Homo sapiens: one gene and its partners. The protein of the gene in region 2 interacts with the protein of the main gene of each other region in a biochemical or structural test. Each region holds a gene or a part of one and is shown on either strand. Other genes may lie near its edges.

Evidence for each region. Proteins that work in one complex are often made in the same cells at the same time.
Region 1: the proteins of BMP2 (region 2) and FSTL1 interact in a biophysical measurement, tested with the Homo sapiens proteins (one study listed by IntAct).
Region 3: the proteins of BMP2 (region 2) and ACVR2B form a complex in vitro, tested with the Homo sapiens proteins (one study listed by BioGRID).

The regions. Positions count from the first base shown.
Region 1 is NC_000003.12:120,391,848-120,400,275, forward strand, and holds the end of FSTL1 (follistatin-related protein 1 precursor), read right to left. Parts: intron 8,113-8,428; coding exon 8,036-8,112; intron 5,150-8,035; coding exon 5,105-5,149; 3' UTR 446-5,104; downstream 1-445.
Region 2 is NC_000020.11:6,776,343-6,781,571, reverse strand, and holds the end of BMP2 (bone morphogenetic protein 2 preproprotein), read right to left. Parts: intron 3,328-5,229; coding exon 2,483-3,327; 3' UTR 1,326-2,482; downstream 1-1,325. UniProt on the Homo sapiens protein: Growth factor of the TGF-beta superfamily that plays essential roles in many developmental processes, including cardiogenesis, neurogenesis, and osteogenesis. Induces cartilage and bone formation.
Region 3 is NC_000003.12:38,469,607-38,478,034, reverse strand, and holds part of ACVR2B (activin receptor type-2B precursor), read right to left. Parts: exon of another isoform or gene 6,495-8,428; coding exon of another isoform or gene 6,446-6,494; intron 749-6,445; coding exon 541-748; intron 175-540; coding exon 65-174; intron 1-64. UniProt on the Homo sapiens protein: Transmembrane serine/threonine kinase activin type-2 receptor forming an activin receptor complex with activin type-1 serine/threonine kinase receptors (ACVR1, ACVR1B or ACVR1c).

The sequences.
Region 1 (8,428 bases), on a different chromosome or scaffold from region 2:
AGTTTGGATCCCCTACTATATTGTTCTTATTCCCTTAATTACAACCTTAGATTTAGCTTATATATTCCATGACTCTGGCAATGACTACATTATGCCATGTTCTGTCCTCCCCAAGTGGACATTTCTGAATGCTTTTTGAGGGCATCAGAGTTCTACTCTGGCCGTTTTCTGTCCTTAAGTTTCAACAATGACACAGATTTTAAAGTTCTTTTGTCTTAAAGACAGAAAGGAAAAGATGTATAAATCGGGTTATATAAAGAGTCGAGTTTTCTACAAGGCAAAGCATCTCATAAAGTCAAAAGAAGAAAAACAAACTGAGAAAGTATTTGCCACATTCACAACAAAGGGCTAACGATATACTTATGGAGAACTATGACAAACCAGTAAGAAAAAGACCAGCAACCATTAGAAAAACAAAGAAAATGAAGAAAATGACAAGAACCAATTATTCATGAGATGATATTTAATCTTACAAAAGGAATAATGAATATAAAAAATAAAACAAGGAGTTACCATTTTTCCTCTATCAGAGGCCAAAAAGTTCGAAGGCACAATGTTTGCAAGAATGTAGGGAAATGGATATGCTCAGTTTATGTACTTTTGGCAGTCATGCATACTGGTGCAACTTCTTTGACTTTATAGGCAATCATAGGCAAATTTATAAATGTACACACCCTCTTAAGAGGATGGTTTTATTCACTGTATTTTCTGTGATACAATTTGGATTTTTACCATGTACACATATTATTTTTTCAGTAAAAAAGTTAAATCATTAGGAAAACATTAATTCTCATTGACAGGAAGACCCTCCTTCCTATTCATACAGCAACATTTTACTTCCTATGTCACACCATGCAACAGCCCCCAGCAGCAGTAGGCCAGAGTTGTTTTCATGTCCCATATCCCAGCTAGGATTATTCCAGGGCTCTGAAGGCATCTGCTTAGATCTATCTATGCATTCATATTTTTTCCCTTCCTTCCTTCCCCTTATTTCAGAAATAATTCAAGAGGACTGATGATAACTTGATAAAGAAGCTCTAAAATAAAGCTGATCAAAGTAACATACTTCTTTGCACAATTCGTAATATTAAATTTTGATGAAAGGAAACTTAGCTTCTGAATTATGCTTAGTTTAATAATGTTGCACTTCCTGAATACATACATACTATAACAGCAGAAAAAGTTTTCCCAGAACATGGTGGAAGGTTGGGAAGTTAGCCAAAATTTAAAAGTGGTTGTGGACAAGGTACCCTTCAAACTGGGTTTAAGATTCCCTTCTGAGAATGAAAATTTGAAGAATCAAACTGTAAGAGCAGTAATCTGTAGCAATCACATAACAAAAAAGATTGCCTTTTAATATTTGATTAGCATTTGGGTAATATCCCAAATCCAATCAAAGTGATCCAGCTATAATTTTAGGAAAGCAAAACTTCCACATGACTGAACCGAAGAAACCTTAAACCTCATTGACTATAATATGCTCTTTTGGGAGGCAGAATTATTGTGGGTGGAGAGTGCATGATACATATGAAAATGGCAGGTTGGAAAGCGTTAGTCATGTGTCCCCAAGCAAAAGAGGTTTTAACCAGCTAACGTTCAGCCCACTTGGAACTGTTTACCCCCATGGAATGTGTGTATCAAGGAAGTGCCATTAAGGTTATTTAGCCTGTCCCTGGCAATGATTCCATGTTCCCTGTACTACCTTCCCATGTTTATTTGCCTTCTCACAGGCTACTGCAGTCAGCCTCACTGGATGCCATTTAGTCTCCTAAATCATATGGGGGATTTACGAGTCATTTAATTTAATGTCTTCCCAATACAGGAATGCACCTGCTATGGTTTGAATGTTTATGTCCCCCAAAATTCATATGTTAAAATTGAATCCCCAAAGCAATGGTATTGAGAGGTGAGGCTCTTGGGAGATGATTAGGTCATCAAAGTTTAACCCTCATGAATGGGTAAGTGCCCTTATAAAAGAGGCCTAAGGGAGTTTGTTCACCCTTTTCACCATGTGGGGATGCATCAAAAAGGTGCATTCTTTGAAGCAGGCAAGCTTCAACAAGCCGTCATCAGACACTGAATCTGCTGGTACCTTGATCTTAGGCTTCCCAGCCTTCAGAACTGTGAGCAATACATTTCTGTTGCCTATAATTACCCAGTCTGAGGCATTTTGTTATAGCAACTTGAAGGGACTAAGACACTTTCTGACTTGTCATCACCTTCTACTCCAGACCCACTATCCATGATCCTTTCAAAGAAACTTGTTCTACCAGTCCCCGAGTAAACTTTCCATCCAAGCTGTAGTCCCAGGAGAAACTCTTCAGTCCTTTTTAAGGCTCCTGAAACTCAAATCCACTCTTAGGAAGTAAATGGGTAATGTTCTCACGACTTTATTTGGCCTTAATTGGGGGAAAGGAAACCAATAAAACCATCACTTTAATTTCTTTATTCATCAATAGTATCCGAAAAGGAAGAATCAGGAGTTACAAAAACAAGTTAAATGCAATATAGAAGCCTACTAAATACAAATACAAGTTCACAAACACATATGCAACAGAAACTTGTTTAGATTGTTTCTTGAAGTTTGACTACTTAAAAACATAGGTGTAAAGGAAAGACATTCAGACTGGTCCACGTGGGCTTGTTAGCAGGCAGAGGAACCCTGCTTTCCAAAAACTGATATAGTCCAGAGTCACGGCATGTGGGAATGTTTCCATGGACACTGGATCTTAACAGATGCTATAGTGTTTACAAAACTACACACACAGAGAAAGCCCAAGGAAGCCTGCAGGCTAAGCCCTATGCTTTTAGAGGGCTGAAGGAACCAAACCTAGTTTAATCCTGTTTGTTTGCTCCATGCAAAACTTTATGGAAGACTCCCCAGACTAGGCTATTTAGCAGCTTCCATGAATGGTCCTCAGATCATGTGATTCTACGGCATAGACGACAGCTGCCCTATTTACACAGAAGCTGCAGAACTCAAGAGGAATGTGGATTTGCTCTTGGGAGTTCAATGTTGCAGGGTAGAGTAGTCTTGGATGATAACCATGTTCTAAATGACTAGTGAAGAGACACTGTGGTTTCTTGCTTTTAACAAATTGGTGTACTCTTGCCCTCCTCCCATAGTGTCCAAGGGCTGGTAAAACCTTTGATTAAGGCGTGCTGCTGTGAGTTCTCCAAGGCACTTGGACAGGGAGCTGCATTTCAGACTGAACAAGTGGAGTTTGAAGAGTTTTTAGATGGGATGGATACATAAAAGCTTGAAATGCTAAACAAAGTGGAATTTTCTCCTTTCAAATGAGAACAAGAAAAACTAGAAGGAATTCTATTTTTGGCACAACAGTTTCTCACAGTTGCCTGTGCATTACAACCTAAATAATTTCCTTCTGATGGTCTTTAATCTGCTTTCTGCAAATGAGATCTTATGTCAAGGATTTAATCTTTGGTATTCCAAATGCATCTGAAACAGGGTAGTGAGTGGGGTTAATAATCACAGAAGTCGAAAGACACAGGACTAACTGTAAATGACTGACCTCCCCAAGTCACAGTTTTAGGATTAAATCTCCATTTTCTTCCCCCTGTTGAATCTGAAACTTTCTTTTATCCTCATCTCTAAGGGAATGCTTTCTATTTCCAGCCGGAGGTTAAACATGAAATGCAAATATGAAGACAGAGTGGGGTGGTTCTCTTTCCCACTCTCTTCCTGCTTTACCCATGAGGACTCCATATCATAGCACGACCTGTAGGGTCATCAGGCTGAGATCAAATCTGGTCATCTTGTTTTTGGCCATCTGACATTTCTTGTTCTAGTAACAAGATTTCATTTATTCTATAGAGAAGAAGGAAAAATCACAGGAACCTATCTCCCCTCTGGACCAATGATCAGAACCACAGAATTTATAACTTATCAAATCAAAAGGTTAGTGCATTCTTACCAGCTCACTGAGGAAACTGAGGTCCAGAAAAAAGAAGAGACAGGGCCAACTCACCCTCCTAGTTAGTCGAATGAGCATATTGGTAGGCTGGGATATCCTAAGCCCTGCTTGGCTGCCCTTGTCGCCATCCTTGGGAATACTGATTTGCCTCAACTTCTCAGAATAAATAAAAACAAATTAATGTTTGGATCTTGAAAGTTTTTTATGAAGATGCTTCTTCCCCTGGCTTCGGTCTAAGGCACCCTTGCTCCTCTGGCAGATAGTGGACTGCTGGAAGCTAGGGGGGCCAACTATGGGCTGCATCTAGTATGTGGCAGGGTGGGGGCATCTGGGTTATTTCAGCCCCTGCACCAGGAAGAACCCCAAACTCCTTCCACCTATGAAGTGGTGGGACTACTGAAAAATAATTACAAAAGCTTAATACCTAGTCAAGAAAATAAAATATTAAAAAACAATAATATAATGATAATAATTGAAGAATAAAGTCAACTTGCCAAAAAAAAGTGTTTTACAGAGAAATAGCACCTTTGGTAAAAAGTATTTTTAAAATTTGGTTAGGTCGCTAAGGGGCTCAAAGTATACAAGTATCTGCATCATTTGGGTGTACCCTCCCAGAAACTCCATCCAAGTCTGAGGGACACTGGGTTAACTAGCAGTATGGCTATGTATCTAGAGGCAGTTATTGGGACCAAGAGATGCGTGGATGCTGGAGGTCTGTCATGCTGACGGCAATGGAAAGAGGCTGGAAGCAGAGAGCGTTCCTCTCCGTGGAGCTTCCCAAACCTCTCCTCCGGGGACACCCTGCTAAGTTCTCTCTGGCATCGTGTGCACTCCCTGCAGCCTGCTGACAGATGCAGTAAACTCAAAAGAGGTTCAGATTTGGGTCTGTTCCTCTTTCAATCGTGATGCAGTTTCCTTACTAGCCTCCAGCCCCAGAGCACCATTTACAGTTTCTCTTAAAGCACTCCTAGAAATGAAGGCTGTGGCCCTTCCCTTCCTAGCCAGCCACCTTCATATCCTTTATTGCAAAACAAATAAACAAAATAAAACTCATTGCTATATAAGCAAATACTGGTGATTTGGCGACTGTAGCAGACACTTGTGTATACTGAACTCAGCGCTGAAGTGGAGAAGATGCTGGGATCCAGACACTGGTCTGTGCCTCCTCATTAGATCTCTTTGGTGCTCACTCTCTTGGTCTTTTCAGCTGTTTCCTTTGAGATGCAAGAGAAAATAGGCGTCATGGAAATATTAAACAACTGTTGGAATTTATCTGTTCCTCAAGACTATATAGCATTGGCATTTACAAGCTTATGCTGAATTTTAGTTGTTTACTTGTCGGGCTCCTCCACGGACAATGAACAATTTGAGAACAAGAACTATGGCCTATTCATGACATGGTCATGCAGGGGCTGTTTACTGAATTAAGCTGACTCCATTTGGACTCCTATGAAACAAGCAGATCAGACATTATGGTTCCCATTTTAAGGATGAAGAAAATGATGTTAAATGGAAATGCTACAAGATGTTCTTAATCCAACAAGTCCAAAGAAGTGTTAAGTACAACAGGTTCTGGAGGCAGACTGCCTGAGCTTCAACCATGGCTGTGCTACTTTTTGGGTGACCTTGGGCATATTATGAAATCTTCTGTGTCTCAATGTCTTCAACTGCAAAACCACAGTAATAAAGTACCATCTCTTACAACAGTGCCTGGCACAAAATGGCCAATAAGGACATAAGAAGATGCTCAACATCATTAATCACACGGGAAATGCAAATCAAAACCACTTGACACCCGCTAGGACAGCTAAAATAAAAAATAGCAATAACAAAACCGTTGGTGAGTATGTGAAGAAATTGGAACTCTATGGTGAAGATGTACAGTGGTGCAGTAGCTTTGGAAACCAGTTTGGCCATTTCTCCAAAGGTTAAACATGGAGTCACCGTATGACCCAGCAATTCCACTTCTAGGTAAATACCCAAGAGAGCTGACAACATGTGTCCACACAAAAACTTGTGCGAAAATGTTCCTAACAGCTTTATTTATCAGAGCCCCCAAATTGAAACAACCTAAATATCCATTAAATGATGAATGGATAACACAACATGTGGTATATTCGTATCATGGAATATTACTCAGCCATAAATAGGAAAGAAGTACTGATTCATGCTGTAAGAATGAACCTTGAAAACATTATGCTAAGTCAAAGACAGAAAAGGCTATACTGTTGTATGATACCACTGTAATATGTCCAGAACAGGCAAATTTATAGTTAGAAAGTAGATTAGTGGCTGCAAAGGGCTGGAGGAAGATGAGAATGGAGGGTTACTTCTAATGGGTATGGGATTTCTTTCTGGGATAATGAAAATGTTCTGGAATTAAGATAGTAGTGAGATGATTGACAATCTTAGGAATATACACTTTAAAGGGGTGAATTTTATGGTATATGAATCATATCTCAATTAAAGAAATAAATTTTTAAAACCTGACAACATTGCCTGATATCTAGCAGACACTGGTGTTCCATCCATCGCCCCTTTGTGTTTAATGTCTTGGTGTACACTGGCATGACTTCCTACCTACTGCCAGCACCTGCATCTCTGCCTGAGGCCTTTCTCTGGCTGCTGGAGCCCACTCTGTCCACACACACTGATAGGCCACAAATGCCAGGGAATTAACATTTCCCAGTAGCAGCCCTCAGCCAATGGCTAATGGGAGTTCTTGTAGAAACAGCCCAGCTTCATCCCCACTCAGGCACTGTTATTCCATTCCCAGAGATCCCCAATAGGATTAAGAGTCACTTGTTAACAGTGGTAACATGCCTGAATACACACTCTTCATTACTTCCTTCTCTTTCTGGACTCATTTCCCAAATCTCCCTCTGGTGTTTCCTGGCATTGCTTCCCAAATAAACTATGTGTACTTGCATCCTTGCCTCAGCATCTGCTCTGAGGGGACTCACATCAAACACAGAAACTTAAACATATTAGCTACTATAATTCACTCTGTACTGTCTGATAACTGTACTGTCTGATATTCTAGACGAAAGTAATTCCTATGAAGTTTTTTTCTCTTTCATGGGATTGAACTCATTTGGAGACTCAAGACTGGTGAAATTTGAAAAGCAAAAGACTAGAAGCTTTTGCTTCTGCTTAAACAACCGACATGAGATTTCTATACTATCAGTGACAATGATGACAAAATGCACATTAAGAATGATCAATAAATGGGCAATTACTATTAATAGTAATAGTTCTGTTTACTCATGTCAAATATTTCATATCAATAGTTTAGCAGTTCTTGTGACCATTATATTCCTTAAAAACTTCTATGTCAGAGAGAAGGCTAATACTACTACATTCGGTCTACGGACAGGTAATGGAAGGTGCAATATCCTGTATTAAGACTACATAATAAGCCAGTAGGAGGATGGGCCAGGAGTTCAACAGTTCCACAATATGTCAGAGCATCACTATTCTGCTAAGAACCCTTTCCCCAAGGAAGCCTTTAACTTAATGACATAGAACCTGAACAAAATTCTTATTATCTTCTTGAGTCTCTGGGAAGGAGACTCTTTGTTAACCCCAGGCTATTTTCTAGCCAGACTGATGTTGAACTTAAATCCTTTCTGCTGTGGCCCAAATCCACTGCTTTCATGCTCACTGAGTGCTGACTACATACCAGGCCCTGTGAGACTGCAAGGGTACAATGATGAGCAAGTTACAGAGCCTGCTTTCAGGAGCTCACAGTCTTTGGGTCTGGACACTGGTCATGACAGGATACACACTTCCTTAAACCACGCTCATTTGCAAACCACTTCCACCTCATTTGCAAATCACCACCTGCCTGATTTTGCCTTATGCAGCCACTCACCGAGCTGTAACCTATATGTGTTGAGACCTACTGGGCCCTGTGAGGACTTTATCAGGGAACTGTCTGTATCACAGTTTGATAGTACAGGTGATGGGGTATCACTCAAGATGTACTGTATTGAGCAGAGAGAGCCTCCTTGGTCTCCTGGGGCACTGGGCAGTGTTTGAATGGTATAGGGCCTGATGGCAACAGCAACACCTGAACCAGCACGGAGGCTGCCACTCACCTGATGCTTTTGGAGCTCCTGGACATATCTGGTCATCTCCTCCTCTGTCTGGGTCTGGGCCCCCTTCTGATTCTTTCCTGCAAGAAGAACCAAAGCTCAGAGCAGTAGCAGCTGTGGTAAGCCAGTGAGGAATCCGCCAAGATCTACCTAGAGGCTCTCAATTCATCTCCCATTTAACTTGTGGAAGGAGAGGTGAATTACCCACATTTTCTGAGTATGAAGGCATGAAGGGGCCCTGTGTAATTGATACCTCCAAGGTAACACATTGTAACAAAGCAATCTACCCCAACTCCTCTCTGGCCTTTGTTCCTTTAACTGCTTAGCACATCCCAGCCAGAAGCTGGCCCTACAAAAAAAGTTATGGTGAAAACTTGGATCCTGACACTGGAGATT
Region 2 (5,229 bases):
GTTTGTAAAAATATTGTTTCTCATGTGAGCTTCCAAGAGGGTCAGAGTGTCTGATTATAAAATCTCTGAAACTAAACTGAAAATGCCAGCATCTATACATATGTACTACATATTACATACATCTTTAGATGTATATTTATGTATTTTATGTTTTATATATTAAATACGCATATGCAAGATAACACATTTTAGTCGACACCATTGAAAACAGTTTTAACCAAGAATATTAGAACCAATGAAGCAGAGAAATCAAAAGGGTGGATGGAACTGCCAAAGGATGAAATTCTTGTGCTATACTCTCATGCTCTCATCTAGAGAATGTGAATATGAGAAAACATGGGTCATTCGTTTTAACATGTTAAGACCGTGCAGTCTGTCCTTCATGTCCATGGCAATAGAGGGTGAAGAACAGCTGGAGAACAAACAAGACCCCAATCCCCTCAGTTGGGTATGATCTAATGGTTCTCACCTAATCAAGAACAATAGAACTAGAGATAAAAAGGAGCTGCAAGATTTTAAAAGTTAACCAGCATTAGTAAAAGATAACTGTCATGCACATTTAAAGATAAGGTTTACATAACCTCATAACCTCCGAACTGTAACTAAGCTCATAGTCATCAAAAGTTAATTCCTAGGAAGAATTTGATTATAACAGTCTGTTCCATTATAAACACACTGTTTTTTAGCCAATTCCAAGGAGATTAGAGGTAGGTTTCACCAATCATGCATGGCAGGATCAGAGGGGATGCAAAGTCCTGGAAACTGACCTAAAATACTGCCAGTAAAATAGTGGGTAGTTGTGGGTGCCCTGCTCTTATGAACATCTGCTGAACCCTTCCTTGGTCTGATTCTAACCCAGGGTACAGAAGCCCTGACACTCTGGTAAGTGTTCAATCTGAGCAGCCTAATTTGACTTCATTCTGTTTGGGCGTCAGTCCAACTGGCAGATGTTCTTATAGAAGCTGATCTCCGACACTTTCCCTTTCTAATTTTCTGGCACCGTTGCCTCTGTTGCATGGGCTATTATCTCTGAAACTTTATCTCGGGTTATCCAGGTTTTGCTTGTTTTGTAGGCTTTAGTTTTCCCTTAAATCTTTCTGCCCCAAAGAAGTTCATTTGAAAAATACTAAATCACTGGTAACACCTTTAGTGCAAATATGACTTATCAAATAACTTGCCTGCAATTTTCCAGCCATTCATTACCTTTCCCCCACCCCCTCTAAAATATATAACTTCAGAAACAAAAATGCAAACACAAGGTCATCATTGTAAGCGCTATACAAATGCACCATTTTCTCTTACAGGTTGGACTTTATAGAATGAAATGCCAGAGATTTGATATTTATTATCTGAAATAGGTTTAACATTTGGAGAAATGTGTTCAAACACACAACCTTGGAAAGAAAAGCAAGCTGATAGGTCAGAGAACAGAGGGTGGGCAGAAAACACGATGTGCATAATTTTGCTGCGTGTTGGGCAAAAAGTTAGAAAACTGGGTTCTTTGGAGAATAAAGAGCTCTCAGATGAGGTAAAGGTAAAACACAAATAAATTTCCAACCCTTGATGAGGGCCACGAGATATCAATTTTAAATATATATGACCACAATATCAATAATGAAGAAATCTTACGTTTTATTGAATACTTTGGCCAGATCAGCCCCTTTGAAGGGATCACTAATTTAGGAAAGAAGAACAACAAACCATCATTCACTTTCCTGCAGGTTCATCGTTTTCCTAATTATTTCTATGGATCCTGCTTTATTCTTTCTGTAAATTAAGGGGCAGGAGGAGAGTTTCTATAATAGATCAGCAATGTCTGGTTCTTATCCAAATATTCCACCTAATAAGGATGTAAATTCTCATGGATTGGACAATCACTCTGCAACATTCCTGAGAATTGAATAATATAATAATCTTGAAAGTCAGCAGAGTGGATTATCCACTTTTTTTTTCTGGACTTGAACTTGTGAACTCAACAGTAGCACTGCAAAAAAGCAAACGTGCTAAGCACTTTGCCAGAGTAACCTTCCATGTAGACTTTTCATCTTAAATACACACAACTGAAAACAACTACAATTTTTGGAAAATTATGTACAAACCCGATACTTCTTTTGATTACATATAAATACAAATTAGCTATTTTTTTCCTAAAAAGTGGTTATAATAGTAAATAAATACAAAATAAATCTGACCATTATACTTCATGTGCTGGGGTTGAACCCATATAAAATGTACAACTAAATACATTTTAAATCTTTAAGGAATAATTCTCTGATTAAAATATTTGTTTTCCCAACTTCTTTTCGTAGATATAAATATATTTTCAAAATAGCTGTTTTTTTTTCCATTCCATTCCATAAATAAAGTCTTCATTGGGAAATATTAAAGTGTCAACTGGGGTGGGGTTTTTTTGTTTGTTTGTTTTTTTCTTTTTTCTAAAATATATATATATATATATATTTATGTATTTAATTTTGCTGTACTAGCGACACCCACAACCCTCCACAACCATGTCCTGATAGTTCTTTAATACAACCTTTTCATTCTCGTCAAGGTACAGCATCGAGATAGCACTGAGTTCTGTCGGGACACAGCATGCCTTAGGAATCTTAGAGTTAACAGAGTTGACCAACGTCTGAACAATGGCATGATTAGTGGAGTTCAGATGATCAGCCAGAGGAAAAGGGCATTCTCCGTGGCAGTAAAAGGCGTGATACCCCGGGGGAGCCACAATCCAGTCATTCCACCCCACGTCACTGAAGTCCACGTACAAAGGGTGTCTCTTACAGCTGGACTTAAGGCGTTTCCGCTGTTTGTGTTTGGCTTGACGTTTTTCTCTTTTGTGGAGAGGATGCCCTTTTCCATCATGGCCAAAAGTTACTAGCAATGGCCTTATCTGTGACCAGCTGTGTTCATCTTGGTGCAAAGACCTGCTTATCCTAACATGTCTCTTGGAGACACCTTGTTTCTCCTCCAAGTGGGCCACTTCCACCACGAATCCATGGTTGGCGTGTCCCTGTGCAGTCCACCGCATCACAGCGGGGGTGACATCAAAACTTTCCCACCTGCTTGCATTCTGATTCACCAACCTGGTGTCCAAAAGTCTGGTCACGGGGAATTTCGAGTTGGCTGTTGCAGGTTTTATGATTTCATAAATATTAATTCGGTGATGGAAACTGCTATTGTTTCCTAAAGCATCTTGCATCTGTTCTCGGAAAACCTGAAGCTCTGCTGAGGTGATAAACTCCTCCGTGGGGATAGAACTTAAATTAAAGAAGAATCTCCGGGTTGTTTTCCCACTCGTTTCTGGTAGTTCTTCCAAAGATTCTAATTTGATAGAGAAAAACAGGGAAGAAAAAAGAAAAGTCTGAATTTCAGTAAGCCAAGTAATGACGTTTGATTATCTATGAGAATTTTTAAACCTCATCGTGGGATTTGATGTAACCCATGTAAAAGTAGGTAACCAGAAAATAAAAATTTCCTCTTTAAATAAACATGGAGCCTCCCTTCTCTCTGTTCTGTAAGTTCATGTCATCATGCATTGCATACCAGGAAACAACCTTTCATAATTCTTTGTTGTGTTTTTGATCTAATACATGAATACTGCTTCCAGGTGGCTATAATAATGGGGGAAATGGTGAAGCATTTCTTTGGAATTCCAGACTTTAGGGTAAAAAAAAAAAAAAGTCAGCACTATAGTTAGTAGAGGTCTAATGAGTGAGGATTTGAGGAAATTATTGCATTTCTTTTTTAAAAAAGGCTTTAATGCCAATCCCTTAAGCAGTATTCTAAAACATTACTCTGCAATTTAGATGATTTACAAATCTCGATATACAGATTTCAGCTTCCTAATTAAAGACTCTGAAACTCAACATCAACGATGACATTTTGCAAAGCACACCCTACTATTTTACTCAAAAGTCCAGAGACAAAGGCATTTACAGGGATCTACTTCTTTGGAAACGTATGGGTGGTACTAGGACACTGTAGTAATTAAGGCCAAACAATTTCAAGAGAAATAGCTTTCCCAACTGTTGTCTGTTCTCTCACCTCTTTATGACCTCAAATATCAAAATCTCATTTTAGATGCTTTTGGAAGAAAAATAAATGACCTGTCTTCTGTTTGCAATGCCTTTATAGTTTTGAAAGATAAACCATGTTAAAAAACCATGTACCTACCCAGTAATAGTGTGCAGGATGGACACAAAACCAAAAAAATAATAAAAATTTACAAAAATATGATTATGATCTCCATGACAAAAGGAACAGTCTCATCCTATTACAGAATAATCCTTCTATATCCACTATCATTATTTCAAAATAGCCATTTAAGTGGGCCATGCACAAAAGCTTTGTCTGATTTAAAATTTCTGAATTTCAATTTTTAAGAAGTATTATTCTCCAAGCAAGTAATATATAACACAGCACCTTGAATGCTTGTAGTCTGCAAATCATCAAAGGTACAACATTATTATTAAACTGGTAGTATATACCATGAGAGTTTGAGACATTTAAGTTTATTTTATTCTAACTTTACCACATCCTATCATTTCACTGCCAACAGAATTTGCCTGCTTCATTCAGAATTCCTACCCAAGTGCTAACAAAATCTATTTTGCCATCGTTCCATGTTATCATAAGAAGAGACTATGTTTTTATTAATTTTACAGTTGTATTTCCCCTAAAGACAAACAGCTGTAAGTTGTGCACTGAATCTAGATGCCTTAGCAAAGGAGAATCATGTCAGATCACTCACTCAAAGGATCTACCCGTGTAAGCCTTCATCATCAAAGCAACAGTCATCATGCAAGCTAAGTGGACACACCAAGTTCAGTCAGGGCAGTTTATACCAAACTAACGCTTTAATGCAGTGCTTTTCAAACTTCAGCCTTCACATAAAACAGCTTGTACACCGTAAAGCTTCAGATGCAGGCTCTGATTCAGTAGGTCTGGGGAGATGCTTGAGATTCAGCATTTCTAGCAGCTCCTCAAGGAGGGGATTCTGGGAACTGTAAGACCACACTTGGAGTGTCAAGGTTTTGCAGCATGTTTTTCATATTCCAGTATAGATTGCCAGGAGTGCATTTTTAAAGTGCCTTTTTGTTAAATAATATAAAAACTAGTAGAAGAACCATTAGTGGTGGCAAAGGAGTAAGAGTTGAATGGGCCAGCTCTGGGTGGGCCCAGCCAGGGTCTCAGAACAGAAGGTTCTTCTAAAGCTCTTCTACG
Region 3 (8,428 bases), on a different chromosome or scaffold from region 2:
CGCTCCAAGCCAAAGAAGCCCAGGTCGGCTGACTCAAGGCCCCACTTCCACACTGCCCCCTTACCTTCCGGGCCCCCAGCCTCTGGCAAATGAGTGAAGCGTTCGTTGCAGAAGTTGCCTTCACAGCAGCAGAAGTACACCTGGGGGTTCTCCTCAGTGGCCACACACTCCTGCCTGGAGGCACAGAATTTTCCATATACCCCTCACCTGGGGGATGCAAGACTCCCCCAGGCCTGCCCTGCCAACCCCTCCTCACAGACAGAGCACCTCATGGGCAACACCAGGGGGACGGTGTGAACTCACCTCCCCTACAGGAGACCCAAAGCCAAGGAAGAACAGCCAGGGGTTGACACTGAGACCCCTCCTCAGGGCTAAGGTAGGACAAATAGGGTGTGGAAGGGCGTGGGGCCATGGCTACCATCTCAAGAGCCCCTTCTTGGTCCTTTATCTCCCACTCAGACATCCTGAGACCCAAATGGCCCAGTGGGCAGTATAAGCGCAGGTGGGTCCAAGAGGAAAGGAGGGCAAGTCTTGGGGTACCTATCGTAGCAGTTGAAGTCATCTAGCCAGCAGCCCTTCTTCACGAGCTCGATGGTGCCAGAGCTGTTGCGCCAGGAGGCGTAGCAGTGCAGCCGCTTGTCCTGCTCGCCTTCGCAGCGCTCCAGGCCGCTCTGGTTGGTGCGCTCCAGCTCCCAGTTGGCGTTGTAGTAGATGCACTCCCGTGTCTCAGCCTCCCCACGCCCAGAGCCTGTGCCCCAGAGAAAAGAGAACCACTGAGCATGCCCCTGGGACCACCACCCAAACCCCTACTCCCAGTCCTGGGTGCCAGGCCACCCTGAGGGAGGGAGGCCGGGTGGTGGGTTGGGGTCACCAACCTCCTGCACTCACCCCTGGACGTAGGCCACCCATCCGTCCCACACCTCTTAATTTACGTGTGCCAGCTGGCACCAGCCCCCACCTCATTCTGCAGCCCATCACAGCTGCCCCTAGGCCTAAGCAAAAGGGAGGAGGCAGGAAACCTAATGCCACAGAAGGATGGATAAACAGCCAGACAGACAGAGTCCAGATGCACAGAAAGGGCACCAACACCTGAGGCTCCTGCGTGGGGGTGGGGGCTACTTCCCTGCTGCAGCAGAAACCGATGAAGAGGCCCCCTTAAAACCCCAGTGCACATCGGAATCACTGTATGTTGCAGGTGTGGGAAAGGGGAGCAGTGTTCATTCAAATACGTATTTCCAGGCCCAATCCAGACCCATCCCAATGGGAATGGGGGCAGAATATGTGCTTTTAATCACCCCTGTCTGTCTCAGGTGATTGTGATAAAGATCTCAAGGACCACCTGGGAAAACTACAAAGGGGAGTGGCTTCCTGCTGCTCCTGTCTCTGCCCCCAAGCCCCCTTCTCACAACAGTTCCCCAGGGAGACCATGCCAGTGGGTCCTCCACAACTCCCTGCCCATACGGAATGGAAAGGACCCTGTAAGTGTCCTTTCTACACCCAGCAACCACACCTGGTGCTCGGCAGGGCTGGAGAACTTAAGGAATGAGGCCTGCGTGTACAGGGTAAGCCTCCCAGAGTCACCAAGGGGAATACATGCCTCAGGCAGAGGAGAGCTAGCTGGTGGCTTAACCTGCAATCACAGATCATTCTCCTGGCTAGGCTCCTGATGACCCCAGGGCACTCCCCATCACTTCTGAACCCCCTTCCACCTGCTGCAGGAAGTGCCATCCAGGTGGACAACGACTTCAACCCCCACCTGCCCATTCAAACACTTTCCTTCAAACTTGATTTCAAACATTCCCCAAATCCATCTTCCTCACCATCCCCTACAAAACAACCTCCAGTCCCAGCCCCAGTCTACTCCCACTACCCGCAGGAACCACATAGCCCTGACATAGGAAAGAGTATGGAGATGCCAAAGGAGGTTCGGTTCTGTCTGAGAGCTCTGCCAGCACCCCATTATAGGCCGCCCACAATGGAGGCAGGTGGTGGCATTTACAACCTCACTGCCAGAACCCCACACAGACACCCGAGAGGATAGTTGCACCAAGCATCCAGCCATCCTATCCACACTTTTTGGGCCCACATAGGCCAGTGACCTGGCACCACTCCTGGCTGGTCTTCTCCTACCACTATTCCCATCCCAGGAAGGAGGGAGGGGTCAGAGTCAATCCCACCAGACAGCCAGCCCACCAGCAGCCAAGAGCCCTACTTCGCCATCAGCCTGAAAGGCTGACTGGAGTAGGAAAGAACACGAACCCTGCCCTGACCCTGGGGGAGGGCAAAGTACCCTGAACACTAGCGTAGCCTAAGGACATCCTCACGCTCATCTCCACCCCTACTGTTGGCCTTCATGAGGAAAGAGCTTGATTTCCCAGGGTATACCCCAGAGAGAAGGATACTGACTGGCTGTCAGGTGAAAGAAGCCCCCCACCACTGGAGCGGCCATTCTCCTGTCAAACCCAACCCCTTTCTGCAACTCCCTGAAGTGACAGGATGCTTCTTCCAGGGGCAGGAGCAAGCAACGAATCTCAAGGATCCAGGTAGCACCTAAGGGTCCGAAATGTCACCCAATCAGAATGGCAGTGCCCAGCCACAGCTCTGGTCATCCTGCACCAGGTGGCCTAGGCTCTGACACCTGTGAAAGGAAAATGCATGGCCTCCTGACCAGTCAGTCAGCTGGGACTCAGCCTCTTCTAAAGGAAGGGCCTCAGGGTCCACAGAGAGGCTTACAAGGGTACACACTGGCTTCCCCAGCCAGGCCCTTCATCAAGCATGTGGCTTTAAGGTTTAGAGGGAGAACCTGAGAGGGTGGGGTGGGGGTAGTAGACCAAAGGCTGAACAAGCACACCGGGGCCAGGACTGAGGCTTGCACCTACATTGTCCCTGTCTGCCTGCAGCAGCACCCAATTACTGGGTTATTCGAAGCACCCTGCCCAGAGGCCACAGGGCCTCCTCTCCCCAGGCTGGGCCCCACTGCATCCACGGCAGCAGTTCTAGTGGGGGTCCGTGGAGACCTGAGACTTGTGGGGCCAGCCATGAAGCTGCACTGCAGACAGGGAAGCTGGGCACTCCCCTACCTTCCTCCCCTCACTGCAGCCACACCATAATGTCACACCCTTGAATGTGTTTGGCTTCTAGGCTTAGCGTAAGTCGGAAGTTACCACCTCTGGCCGTAAGGTTACCCACCTTCCTCTGATTTCGGCTCTTCCCTCTCCCCTGAGACCAGGCAAACTCTCTATTTCCACTGGCCCTTGTGCTTCCCCTGCCACCTAACTTAACCACCCTTGACTAATGGCCTGTTGTTGCTTAAAGGATTATTTCAGACATCCAAAAAGTGTACCAATAATATAACCAAAAATAATCTCAAGAGGAAATAACACAATGAACACTTGTATGAGAAATAAAACATTACACATGTACTCGACAACTACTTTCTAAATGTCAGGCTTTCCCCACAAGACTGGAAAGCCGACAAAGGCAGGACCCTTGCCGTCCTAAGTGGCAGAATCATTCCAAACACATCATAGATGGATGGGTGGACAGACAGAAGGACAGAAGGGTATAGGTATCATGGCTAGAGCAACATGTCGAAAGGAGGGGACAACAAGGATGGCCTCAGCCTGCAGCCCAAGCCCTAGGTCCTCAAAGAGTTTCCATCTCCATTCAGACAAGCAACAAGCCTCTGTGCTGAGGCAGGAGCCCAAACAAGGGAGGCCAACAGAGTAACCTCCTCTCTCCAGGCCACTGATAAGTCAGGGACCACCCACTTGCCACTACCATGGGCAGTACCCAAGTGAAGAGGCTGGGAGTTCCAAATCTCAGAGGACCCAAGGGTTCAAGATGTCAGCTGGGCCAGGCACGGTGGCTCACGCCTGTAATGCCAGCACTTTGGGAGGCTGAGACGGGCAGATCACCTGAGGTCAGGAGTTCGAGACCAGCCTGGCCAATGTGGTGAAACCTGGTCTCTACTAAAAATACAAAAATGAGCCAGGCATGGCGGCGGACACCTGTAATCCCAGCTACTCAGGAGGCTGAGGCAGGAGAATCACTTGAACCCAGGAGGCGGAGGTTGCAGTGAGCTGAGGTCGTGCCATTGCACTCCAGCCTGGGCAACAAGAGCAAGACTCCATTTCAAAAAGATGTCACCTGACCCCCATCTGACCAGATCCTCCTACAGGCAACCCAGCGAAAAATGGCAGCCGTGAGCGGGCCAGACTTCAAGTCCTACTCCAATACTTCACAGCTAGGGTAGTTGTAGGAACTAATTGAGTTAATGCACTTTAAGAGTGGTTAGAACACTGCCTGGCACATTGGCTATATTACAGCCACAACCATCCCCTACTGCCTATGACAATCCCTCATAACACAAGTCCCCTGTATGACTCCCAGCCCATCAAGTCACACCATGCCTACAAGAGCTTTATGTTCAGAGCCCATGCCCCTCCCTCACCACAGGGCTCTGCTGCCACCTGGAGACCCAGGGGCCTCCCCCATTCCTCTCTCTTCCCCAGACTCTCCTTCTTCACACACTCAGCTATTTATAGCCTCTGGCAATACTCCAACCACAGGCCACCTCTGCCTTTTAATAGATACAGATTCCCACCCACACCCAGGAAGCCAGGGCATCCATGCACAGGAGGCTCCCCTTGACCCCCAGCCCACTCGCCTAACCTGGCAGGAGGAGAAGCCATGCTCCCAAGATGCGGGTGCTTATGGTACCCCCTTAGGCCTGCTGCTTCATAGCCCTGAGGTAAGTGAGCATGGCCCCCAGACACCAGGACAAGGGGCTTGCTGCATCCCTGAGTCACAGCCAAACCAACTGCTGGCCTCCAAAGGAAGCTGAAATAAAAGTGGCAGTGTCCCCAAGGGGCAGTCCCTATGCTCCAAGGGGCCTAATGCCAGTAGAGAGAAAGTACCCAGTGCTCCCCAAACCATCCCTCCTGGCAGGACCACTCCCACATACACCACCCCCGACCCTCACACAAACACACAGTACATGCACATACACACACACAGTACATGCAGACTGCACTCTGAACCAACATTCCTGGTAGCAGAACCTAAGCCGGCTAGTTTGGATGCTCGAAGACACGCACTGGGAGGTCAAATACTGGGAGGTTCGTTTCTCCTATGAAGCAGCTCAGTCCAGTAGGCCTTGGACATACCCACTATGCCCTGAGGAGAAAAGGGAGAAACCTCACCAAGGTCCCATCTGTGAGGGGCTCAAAGTGCAATGGGGAGAGAAAGAAGAGGAGATGGTTCAGAGGTGGAGTGTCCATGCCCACCTCCCCTGGAGTCCCTGAGCTCTGCACTTGGGTGTCCCCAGTCCAGCCAGTGTCTCCTAGAGGAACTGTGACCCCAGCAGCCAGCAGAACCACTGCTCAGTTGGCTCCTGGAGGCCCCTTGGCAGCCACCTACCCCAGGGAGCAGGTGCCCAGCCCCACCCTTGTGGGCACTGTAGTGGTGAGAAGGAGTGCCACTCACCAGGTGAGAAGGAGTGCCACTCACCACTACATCTATCTAGGTCTGCTTCTGCCAGCACACTGAGGCACACCCTGCCAGAAGCCTCCATGCCCAAGAGGAAGACAAGCAAGAACATCTCAGGAGGGCCAGTGTTCTCCCTCTGGTGTCCAGCCTTCACATCTGCCCAGAGAGGAAAGGCAGCTCTCCCCACAGACAGCACCCCTCGAAAGGCAGCCCTGAGTCTGCTCAGCTGCCTTTATAGCCCTAGCAGGTCCCTCCATAAGAGCGAAGGAGGGCCAAGAGCAGTGACTTATCCATGTTATGATTCCACAGCCCCCAGCTCCACAAAGCAGCATCTCCACCACCTCCCCAGCAGCAGAGTAAGGGCAGCTGGGGTGTAGAGATGGAGGGAACCTGAAGAGACAGATGGGGCCAGGAAGGAAGGCTGGAGTGTATAACAGATAAAGACACTGACACATGCACACACGTGTATGCACACTGTGGAGCGGCATGTACAATAGGGGAGAAAAAAACCCAAAATATTCCAACATTGTGTCTTTGCATTTCTTTTACCCAAGAGAATAACTCTTGACTATTTCTAGCAACCAAATACAATCTCTAATACATATGCTTTTTGTCCTTCATCCATATATTTGTAAGCCATCCAGGTTGATATGCATTAATTTAACACTTATACAGCTCACACTACATCCCAGGTCCTATTCTAAGCATTCTGCAAAGAGTAACTTATTTAATCCTCACGATAAACCTGTGCAGGTCCTCATTTTATAAAAACTGAGGCACAAAGAGATTAAGTAACCTACCCAAGTTACTTATTAAGTGTCAAAATCAGGCTTCAAACCCCAGGCAGCCTGTCTCTAGAGTGCATGTTCTTTATATACTGCTGCCTCTCCTGCAGCCCTGAAGTGCATTTATTTCAGAAGCTTATAACCTCACATAACTTTAAGTATCCACTCACCTACTGGACTCAGGTTATTTATGTTTGTTGATCTCAGCAATGCCATCATGACTTCTTTTTTACATTTGTGTGTGTGCGTGTGTGTGTGCACTCATGTGTGGGCGTTTCTTGGCTAGGTCATAGAGTCTAAAGATCAACTGACTAAATACTGTTAAACTGTTCTCCAAAGTGGATGTGCCAATCCAAGTTCCCAACAGATGACAGCCCCCACCTGGGGTTCACCTGGTGAGTGTGAAATGGTACACAATTTGGATCTGCATTTCCCTGATTACTTGTGAGACTGATCATCTTCTTGTGATTACTAACATTTCCTTCTGAGAACTGTTTGTTTGTATCTTTTCTCATTTTTCTACTGGATTACTTTTCCTTTGAGTTACAGAAATTATTTTATATATTCTTGGTAATAAAATTTTTCTTACTATATAGTAACCCTCTTCATTTGTAATGAATGCTCTTTGCCAAAAAGTCCATTTTATCTGATGTTAACATAGCTATATGACATTTCGTGTGTTAGTATTAGAGAAAATTACCTTTTCTAACTTAAACAAAAAATCTTTCTCTCTTCCCTCCCCCCAATTCAATCTAACACCATCTTTTAATTAGAGTTCGGTCTCATTACATTTATGATTTCTGGGTATGTTTATATATATGATTACTGGGTATGTTTAAATTTGTTTCTTTTCTACCGTTACCTCTATTTGGATTATCTTTTAAAATTTCCTATTTTAGCCACTTTTAAAGTTATACATCTCATTCCTATTCCGTTGTAAGCTAGGCCTATAAACTTTAATGGGTACACTTATACTAAAAGCCTAAATCAACATCTCTACCATCCCTCATTGGAACTTAAATATTTTAAACTCTAATGACTCTTCCAATGTACATCTAATTTAACATATTGCTTGTGTTCCGTATTTAGTGTCACTGTTCTTACTACCCAGCTCCCAAATCAGACATTATTTGTGTCTATATTTTGTAAGCATCCATACAGTCATCTCTCCCTGCATCTCTGCCTTTCTTTCTGAGATCACTGTCCTTACTGAAAAAAAATATTTCAGTAGAGATCTCTTGGCAGAGGAGCCTTTGTTGCTTTTCTCAAAATGTTTTGTCTTTCTTCCTGAATGGCAATTTAGATGAACATAAAATTTTAGATTGTTATTTTACCTCAGCTCTCTGAAAATATTATTCCACTATTTTCTAGCTTCCACTACTGTTGCTGAAAAGTCTGCTATTAATTTAACTTTGCAGATATTCTGTTTTTTTCTTTCTGGCTGCTTTCTCTCTTGGCAGTTTCACTACAAGGTATGTGTCTAAGTATATATTTAAATTTATACTATTTGGGGTTCACTATGCCTTTAGTCTAATGATTTGTGTTTTTTGTCAATTCTGACAAATTCTTGGCTATTATCAACTTGAATATTGCATCTCCAAATTCTATGATTCTGAAATTCCTATTATAAGCATATTAGACCTTCTTATTCTGCCCAGTCTCTTAACCCTCCTTTCCTAATTTCCAATTCTGTGTCTAAACACCATTACAGGTAATTCCTGAAGATCAACTTCCAATTCACGAATTCTCTCTTTAGCTATGTCTAATCTGTTGTTTAGTTCTTCTACTCAATTTATAAATTCAATTATTCTATTTTTTCATTTCTAGAAGTTCTATTAAAAAAAAACTTCCTGGTCAATTTTGATACTTCTGTACTTTGGCCTACTTCCAAATCTCTCTTAGAATTCTGTAATTTAACTTCTTGAAAGTCTGCTTCTGACATTTGTTATTTCTGACTTTATTCATGGTACTGTTTCCTCATGTGGTTTTAGAATTTTGAATACTGAGCTTATGTTCAGTGGGGCCTTTTCTGTTGGACTACTTTGAGGCCAAGTTTGAAGGGGCAACCTTTCAAAGGTAACTTATATTTCTGCCTTCTGCCAATCTCCCTAGGACATTAACTATTTGGAACCACTTTAATTTCTCAACTTAGT